3 separate regions of the Homo sapiens genome follow, and all the other regions are reported to be linked to region 3. Evidence: microRNA targets listed by miRTarBase, many of them from high-throughput screens and not tested one by one. Region 3 holds a microRNA gene; each other region holds the end of a gene's coding sequence.

Region 1 (3,036 bases), not on the chromosome of region 3:
AAATGGGCATAAAATGTCTAACATATCATTATGTAGAATGTGAATTGCATAAACTGTAGCAGGTTCCAAACCTCATTGGGTTGTTGCAAAGTATTTTTTCCTTGAGTCTGTAGGATTCCTAGTGATTCCTTGGGCCACTCCGTAGCCTTTTCTCAATGTATTCAATTTTCAGTCATCACTCAGTTTGATTCTGTTACCTAATGAAGGTATAAAGGTTTCCCACTGGAGGTATAGGAAGCATTTTGTGGGGTGGGGTCAGGTTGTGGGTTCTGTGTACTGTGTGACTGTGTTACGAGCATGACTTTTGTCCTTAGGCTGGCTAGCTCCTTTCTGGTGTCACTGCTGTGTTAACAGTCGAGGATCTGCCTATAATCCAAGCACTTTAGGAGGCCCAGGCGGAAGGATCCCTTGAGCTCGAGACCAGGCTGGGCAACATAGTGAGACCTCATCAATACTAAAATTCAAAAAAATTAGCCATGCATGGTGGTGCACACCTGTAGTCCCACCTACTTGAGAGGCTAAGGTGGGAGGATCACTTGAGCCCAAGAAGTCGAGGCTGCAGGGGCACTGATGCTGCCACTGCACTCCGGCCTGGGTAACAGAGATCCTATCTCAAGAACAAATGAACAAACAAAACTGTTGATCTTGCCCCGCCTCACCAAAAGGCAAAACAGTAATGCTTTTTTTTGAGATGGAGTCTTGCTCTGTCGCCCAGGCTGGAGTGCAGTGGTGTGATCTTGGCTCACTGCAAGCTCCGCCTCCTGGGTTCACACCATTCTCCTGCCTCAGCCTCCCGAGTAGCTGGGACTACAGGTGCCTGCCACCACGCCCAGCTAATTTTTTTGTAATTAATTTTAGTAGAGATGGGGTTTCACCATGTTAGCCAGGATGGTCTCAATCTCCTGACCTCGTGATCCACCTGCCTCGGCCTTCCAAAGTGCTGGGATTACAGGCGTGAGCCACCGCGCCAGCTACAGTAATGCTTTCTGAGGTACCACCTCTTAAGAGGTTTGCTGTCAGCCTCTCTCTCTCTTCCTGTGATCATAAAGGCTCATTTGCTAGAGACTTGAGCATCGATCATCGTTCCAGATGGCCCACTGGTTGCAGATGCAGGTTCACTTGGTAATGGGTACCAAAATCTTGTTTATAGGCCGCGTCTTTGGGCTTCACAGTGAGTGAATGTCTAGTCCATGGCAATCCCAGGGTGAGTTCCTGGCTCTGAGTAGGAAATGGAACTCACTGGGCAGTTCCTCTCATGAATCAGTAATTTTCTTAAAAATAAAGACATAGAACACTGCAGAAAATAACAGCTTTATTGCTACAGATGTGAGAGCATTTACAAAATGCCAAGGAAAACCATTCCGTTTTGAGTCTCTGGAGCCTGAACTCTCACCATGTACCAGAAAAGAATGCCCCTCTTTCGAACTTTCAAACAGTTGGGATTATTTTTGTTTCTTATCATCCCAATTATTTGCTCAAGTTTGCCTCCATTGGGCCCCGTTCAGAGTTTCTTGGGCTGCTTGTACTAGTCACAGCTCCACTTCCATCTCTTCTCAGGAAGAGGTGGGCACAAGACACATCTGAGCCCCTTAGTATTGTGATGGTGGCCAGGAAATGATCAAAGGGTAGCATTTAGGAAATCAGCAAACTAAAGCCTCAAATCAAAGGTGGACAAATGCATTCTCAACTCAAACAGGTTGGGTAATGCTTTCATAAGATACATTATGTTTTTGTGTACACAGCACACAAATTTTATTATGTCTACAAACAGATTCAGGAAAGACCTCCAGGCTATTTCCCCAAATGATTGACAAAGTGCAAAACAAAACAAAAAAGAGGAGAGCACAAATGAATAGCCCACTTAGAAGCTGAATAGAAAGAATGGGAAGCCATTTCGTTTCATAAAATCTTTTAATTTTTGGCCAGGCATGGTGGCTTACGCCTATAATCCCAGCACTTCGGGAGGCCGAGGCGGGTGGATCCCCTGAGGTCAGGAGTTTGAGACCAGCCTGACCAACAAGGTGAAACCTCATCTCTACTAAAAATAAATTAGCCGGGCATGGTGGCAAGTGACTATAGTCCCAGCTACTTGGGAGGCTGACATAGGAGAATTGCTTGAACCAGGGAGATGGAGGTTGCAGTGACCACTGTACTCCAGCCTGGGCAACAGAGCAATATTCCATCTCAAAAAAAAAAATCTTTTAATTTTTATAATTAACTTTTATCATGCAGCCCAACATGTCATCTTTTCATAAAATCTTAGTAGAGGTGCACTCCAGGGATGATCTGGCCCTCAGTCAAGGGCTGACTTTTCCTGTAGCTATGCTGACCACAGCAGGTTACTAAAAGCTGATTGTTAACGGAGGAAACAGTGGCTGCTTGTATCCTAGGTCTTCTGATAGAAGCAGCAGTTCCACAGTCACTAAAGGTATTGTTCACAATGCACCTCAGCAACATGGGCCAATGATAGCGTATGTTTTAGAACTTATCCATTGGAAGGACATATTTAATACAAACCAGAAATTCATTAAATTACTGGCCACTTAAAACATATAGAAGAGGACTGTCCCAATAGAAAGGGCTCACAATCTGAGCTGGCCTTTTACAATGGCAAATAGTATTACAGTAACATTGCAAACAAACAAATATGAAAAAAAAAGTAGTATATCATTATTAAACACCTTTTACGTAAGATTTTCAGAAAACCCAGGGATAGATTTTATATCACAGAATGGTCCATATCGTCCAAAAATATCTTTTGATTGGACAGTAAAATAGTATCTGTTGGAAGCTAAAAACTGAGATAAAGTACAGGCCATGGGGAGTGGTAAAGCTTTAATTTCTCCAATCTTCTTCCAAATCAACTTATTATTAGAGTTCTCATGACACAGGAAGAGGTGGTAGCTTTCTACAGGAGCACACTTGGGATTGATTTTGGTTATATTCCAAGTCAGGGCAATGCCATTGGGTCTGAAAACCCGTTTCACTTTGAGCTCAGGCTTCTGGGGAGGAAGTGTGTCTCGGGTTTTGTCTACT
Region 2 (3,036 bases), not on the chromosome of region 3:
ACACAAATCAGTAGAACAGAAGATAAATCTGCAGTGGTCCTCCAAGCCCTTGACCCAAATATAATATTACAATCTTGATGACTGTTTTTGAGTTCTTTCTGTATATTATTTATTGTTTTCACTATCAATTTTTAAAATAATGTATGATTTTTTAAAAAATTGTTTAGTTGGTAAATTATTTTTTAAATTGTGTAATTATAACTTAGTTTTTTTCTCATTTCTTTGAAGGTTGTTTTGGAAACCGAAATAACAAATAAGTCCGCTTTGAAACTTTATGAAAATCTTGGTTTTGTTCGAGATAAGAGGCTGTTCAGATACTATTTAAATGGAGTTGATGCACTGCGACTTAAACTGTGGCTGCGTTGAGAAACTGACATCAAGGAACAACTATCATCCGCACAGAATCGACCTTTGCATGCAATGCAATTTGTACAGAATTGCTTTGCAGGTGGATTTAGTAATTTCCATGCAGCTCTTACCTGTCAGTGTCTCATTGAGTGTCGCACAATATTTGTTGCACTTTGGCATGGCACATTTGTTCTGAATTAAAAGATTGTTTTAAACTTCAGGAGTTCTTTTGGTACCAACAAGATGTGCCAGTTGATAGCCAAGATTTATGTGTTCATTTGCAAAGTCTGCTGACAATGTTATTTACACAGTGATCATTTTATCACAGAACCAGTAAGTGGAACATAATTTTTGTTCCTTAAAAAAGCCAATGTGGATTGTAAAAGTCTTTAAGTATACTAACATTTCACACAAAACCTGCCCTAGTTTTCTGAAGTGGGTGAGGGAGACGCTTCAGTTTTAGGTTTTATTTTTTCAATATTAAATTTTCCATTCTTGAATATTGGTACCTCAGTGATTAGTGAATGAAAAAAATGTAGGGTGGGTATGTCTTACAATGAGTAAAGGTAACAATTAAATTTTGTCTGCCAGTGCCTGTGTAGATAAGTATATTTGTCTTCATCTCTAGTTTTTGAATGCATGCTATCTTTTCCTTTTCTTTAAGGCCTTTGCAAGCAAACTTTTGTTTTTATTTAAATTCTAAATTTGATAAATTATTTCAGATTTTTATAATTTGGATACTTTTTTCAGGTGAATGAAAGAATGGTTTACTTTAGAAGTCCCTTTTTCCTTACAGTAACAAGTTGAATCTACTTGGAAAATTGAGAAATGGCTCAAAAGAGATAAGAAAAGTTGATGGAGCCGGGAATTGCTGGGGTTTAGATGCACTTTTTCTTTTGAGAGTAAGGGAAGTTTTGGAAAAGAATAGAAAATTAGTGTAAGTTGATATGATTTTATTTAATCAAAATTACTGCTACGCTGCGAAGAACAGCTTTTACAAAGTAGCTGAATTTGTTTTTCCCACTTGATTTGGATTCACATTGCTTTCATTTCTTAAAATGCTTCACTTCAGGTTCTTGGTCTTGGAAATAAATTTCAAGGTGCATTGTATCCATTTTAAGCTGCTTTATTTTATTTTCACTTGTATGAGCAAATTCTTGGGGGAGCTTTGCTTTTCTTCTGCCAGAAAAACAAAAGGGGGAAATGAAAATCTTTTTTGGAATGAGTTCTGTGGGTTTTCTTAACAGCCACCATGTTTATTAGTTACATTGTGTTTTGGCCAATCAGTGCAATGTAACAAATTTTACAGTTAATTGCTTTCAATTGAGTCAGTAAACCTGTGATAGATAATTTATTTAACTGGAAAACCTAGGTACCCATAAGAAAAAAGATTCATTCTCTGTGAAAACTGTAGGAATCTGTTGTTGTTTTCATTTGAATATGCTCTACTTCTGCTCTAGTATTTGGTTTGGAATATATTTTGTGGCTCTAATTACTGTATTTTTAAAAACCCTACCTCCATTAACAGTTGGTAAAGGCCCCTTTTCAGGAAAGTTTGTTGCTTTTTTTTTTTTTTTAAAGGAAAGCTGCTCTTTGCTCAGTATAGTGTTTTGAAAGTGAACATAGTAACAAATACTTTAAAAATAAAGATACACAATTTATATTTGAAAATAAAAACTTTCTGCTGGTGGGATTATTTATAGTTCTTTATTTTTAAAGAAAATGTTTTCCTTTTTATATTGCTCTTGAAAGTTTAATGAGCAGAATACAATACTGGTTATAATAAAAATATGGTAACCACACAGTACTCAGCCTTTCAATATGTTTTTGGTCAAACTTCATTTAGGCACTAGCATTTAGAAGAATACCAATCACAGTGATGCTTTTGTTATTTAATATGAAGGAAATGGAACTAAAACATTTATGTCATCAAATTTTATTTCACTTCTTTATATTTGACTTGCTGGTTGATACATAATGGTTGATGAACATATATTTGCTTAAATCACTAATAGGGATGGTTGTAAAGTAGATAGATCATTGGTTCAACCATTTTAGTGTTTTTGCCAGATTGTCAATGAAACCATCATACTGACCTTTTCCTCCAAAATTGCCAAATTGACTGAACTGGTTGGGTGTTTGTAAAGATGACGTTAACTGTGTGACTAAAAAGTCAGATGGTTGCCATATTGTTTGGAATATGTTGAATGTCAGTGTATGCCTTATGTCTTTAATTGGGTATGCAAAAAAATTTTTACTTAAGTAGATTAAAATTTTAACCTCTAGCATGAAAACCCAGCACCAACACTGAAAGACTCCATTCAGGTTGAAGTAGCCTCAAACAGTAATTTACTTTTTGATAATAGGCTGTTGTTTTTCTTAAATAAGCTTAAAACAATTCTATCTGAAATTGGTAGCATGGGTTCACTTGGCTACAACTGAGCAAAATAGATGCAACTTTCTTTTAATGGGGTGCTGCCTCTTTAGGACTGACTGTACTATCCACTGACACTGGTTTGGCAGTTGGTACTGCTGAACATTTTTATACATGCTACCATGAAGCTATATATGTTAGTATTGAAGAAGCTAACGGGTATACTATCATTTTTGATGTGTGGGCTGATTATAATTTCCTGTATTTCCTGTACATTGGGATGAAACTACTTTAGCAAAGTCCACAGATCAGAA
Region 3 (3,041 bases):
AAGATGGAGTTTCGGTCATGTTGCCCAGGCTGGAGAGCAATGGTGCGAACTTGGCTCACTGCAACCTCCGCCTCCCAGGTTCAAGTGATTCTCCTGCTTCATCCTCCCAAGTAGCTGGGATTATGGGCATGCGCCACTATGCGCGGCTAATTTTTGTATTTTTAGTAGAGACAGGATTGATCAGGCTGGATGGTCTCGAACTCCTGATCTCCGGTAATCTACCCGCCTGGGCCTCCCAAAGTGCTGGGATTATAGGCGTGAGCCACCGTGCCCGGCCCAGGCATTTTGAAATACTTCAGAATGTGTTTCAGGCTGACATCACTGAAACTCAGAAAAATACTTATTACTCCTGTAGTTACAACATGGGAAAGGCATTGCTAAGAAAGCATCACCATAAATAAACCCGTGGGATTCAGAAGGTGGGGAGTTGGGTGATGTGTTTTCTACTAACCATGTGTTTTAAAAAAAAGGGTGACTAGAAGTTCCTGTTTATCTTTGAATTTCAATAAATTTAGGGCTTGTTTTCCAACCACTCTGGTAGAATTTAGAAGAACCTAACTTATTTATTTTTATCTTTTTGACAGTCTTGCTCTGTCACCAGGCTGGAGTGCAGTGGCGCGATCTTGGCTCACTGCAATCTCTGCCTCCCAGATTCAAGCTATTTTCCTGCCTCAGCCTCCTGAGTAGTTGGGATTACAGGCATGCACCACCATGTCCAGCTATTTTTTTTTTTTTTTTTGTATTTTTAGTAGAGTCAGGGTTTCACCATGTTGGTCAGGCTGGTGTCAAACTCCTGAGCTCGTTATCCGCCTGCCTTGGCCTCCCAAAGTGTTGGGATTACAGGTGTGAGCCACCGTGCCTGGCCAGTCCTAACTTATTTTGTAAGTATACTAGGTATTGAAAAAAGGATGGTAGGACAAACTGCTGGAAACCTTACCCACCAAAGATAATTTATACTGTTTACTTATAGGCTTACTGTCTTTTGTTGAAAAATTGCGATGAGAAAGGAATCGGCATTGGCATCTATTAGGTTGGTGCAAAAGTAATTGCGGTTTTTGCCATTACTTTCAGTAGCAAAAATCTCAATTACTTTTGCACCAACTTAATACTTTCAGGCTTGTTGAAGCCTAAGTAGAAAATTGTTGCTTAATCTCTTTTATTCTGATTAACTCCTACTTTAAATTTTTTCTTTCAGAATCTTTTTATCAAGTGAATCTTTTAAAAAGATGTGAAGAGTTACTTCTGACTTTATGATTGATAGATTATGAGCCCTCCTTAATCCCCAATTTCTTAATTCAAACAAGCTTACTGTGAAAATTTTCTTTTTTCTTTCTTTTTTTTTTTGAGATGGAGTCTTGCTCTGTTGCCCAGGCTGTAGTACAGTGGCACGATCTTGGCTCACTGCAACCTCCATCTCCTGAGTTCAAGTGATTCTTCAGTCTCAGCCTCCCCAGTAGCTGGGAATACAGGCGCATACCACCATGCCCAGCTAATTTTTGTATTTTTAGTAGAGACGGGGTTTCACCATGTTGGTCAGGCTGGTCTCGAACCCCTGACCTCAGGTGATCCGCCTGCCTCGGCCTCCCTGAGTGCTGAGATTATAAGCATGAGCCACCGCGCCCGGCCACCGTGAAAATTTTCTACAAATGCTTGTTTCGAGGAATCTTTTTTGATATTTTGCCAGCAAAGTCATAGGAGCAAAATTTTTTTAAATGAAAATAGAAAACAACATAGTTAAATATATCACGTAGGAGGAAAAGTACCAGTACCAAAATTAACTTTAGCATTTCTTAGTGTTTTACAGTTAACAGGGCATTCCAAGGGAATTAAAATTCAGTTGATTTTATTGGACTTTAATTTCAGAGGAACTCTGAGATGAGAAATTTAACTAGCACGTTTATCCGTTTAGGCCTTAAGCAGATGCAGGTTTCATGACATGCCAGAGGTAAATTTAGGGGTACTTGACTGTAGTGAGTAATTTCCCAGCTATGGGAAAATGTAAATATTATGTAGATGGTATAAAGAAACAATATTACGTTTGTCCATTTAAGGTCTGTTTCTGTTTGTTCAGACAGGCTTGTGGATTGCTTTTCTTGCCAGTGTTCCTTTAGGTGGAAGGTACAGCCCTTTCAGATATTTCAGAATTTTATTTTCTTTTATTTTTTTGAGATGGAGTCTCACTCTGTCACCCAGGCTGGAGTGCAGTGGCACGATCTCGGCTCACTGCAGCTTCTGCTTCCCAGGTTCAAGAAATTCTCATGCCTCAGCTTCCCGAGTAGCTGGGATTGCCAGCACCCGCCACCATGCCTGGCTAATTTTTATTTTTATTTTTTTAGTAGAGAGAGAGTTTCACCGTGTTGGCCAGACTGGCCTCAAACTTCTGGCCTCAACCGATCTGCCCGCCTCTGCCTCCCAAAGTGTTGGGATTACAGGGGTGAGCCACCATGTCCGGCCATATTTCTGTTTTAGAATTGCTTTCTTGCTTTTCCTCTGACCAGATTTGGTCACGTGAAACTGTCAATTAGCATGAATGAGGTGCTGCTGCCATGCAGGGGTTTGATCCTTGGCTGTCATGTTGATGGTCTCTGTATCCAAATTAGTATTTGTGAAATTTGGGGGAAGAGAATTTGGGCTTATTGTGTAGCGGAACGAGTACGTTTCATAAAGGCAAACCTAGCACCGATATCAACAAATCCACTTACAATCCATTCCTAAAGGAGGAAGCTCTGTTACAGTTTTAAAATTAACATTACAATGCATCTTGCTTGTTTGAGGTGAGGGCTTAAAACTCAGTAATGAAAAAGAGGGAGAACTATAGGCTAAAAGGGTGTGTGTTCTTAATTGATTAATTGCAAGCAGCTATGTAGGGCACCCTGTGTTTAAATCAGTGCTAGCTGTATTATCTTGAGCAAGTCATTGTACCTCTTTGTTTTTTTAATTTATTTTTATTTTTTACATTTTTAAGAGACAGGGTCTCACTATGTTGCTCAGTTTGGTCTTGAACTCCTGGGCTCAAGTGATCCTCCTGCCTTGGCCTCCCA

The links. Region 3 holds the annotated microRNA hsa-miR-548c-3p (CAAAAAUCUCAAUUACUUUUGC, at 1,075-1,096, shown strand). A microRNA usually pairs through its seed, bases 2 to 8, with sites in the 3' UTR of a target mRNA and lowers its output. Matches are read on the target gene's strand: a 7mer-m8 pairs with bases 2 to 8, a 7mer-A1 pairs with bases 2 to 7 and ends in A, and an 8mer does both.
Region 1: the mRNA of ATF7IP2 is a reported target of hsa-miR-548c-3p. Seed matches in the 3' UTR shown: 7mer-m8 at 2,193-2,199 and 7mer-A1 at 2,040-2,046.
Region 2: miRTarBase lists NAA30 as a target of hsa-miR-548c-3p. Seed matches in the 3' UTR shown: 8mer at 1,070-1,077, 7mer-A1 at 1,848-1,854, 7mer-A1 at 2,058-2,064, 7mer-A1 at 2,599-2,605 and 7mer-A1 at 2,887-2,893.

Annotation. Positions count from the first base shown.
Region 1 is chr16:10,481,898-10,484,933 of GRCh38, reverse strand. It overlaps ATF7IP2 (activating transcription factor 7 interacting protein 2), which reads right to left. Exons shown (of 14, transcript NM_001393719.1): 14 at 1,296-3,036. The coding sequence ends at 2,685. Among named protein-coding and RNA genes, the nearest start is that of LINC01290, 45 kb to the left of the region's middle.
Region 2 is chr14:57,409,151-57,412,186 of GRCh38, forward strand. It overlaps NAA30 (N-alpha-acetyltransferase 30, NatC catalytic subunit), which reads left to right. Exons shown (of 5, transcript NM_001011713.3): 5 at 229-3,036. The coding sequence ends at 366. Among named protein-coding and RNA genes, the nearest start is that of NAA30, 20 kb to the left of the region's middle.
Region 3 is chr12:64,621,495-64,624,535 of GRCh38, forward strand. It overlaps MIR548C (microRNA 548c), which reads left to right and starts at 1,015; the gene lies at 1,015-1,111. All of the region lies in intron 1 of RASSF3 (Ras association domain family member 3), which reads left to right. It overlaps MIR548Z (microRNA 548z), which reads right to left and starts at 1,111; the gene lies at 1,015-1,111. RefSeq lists an enhancer at 1-96.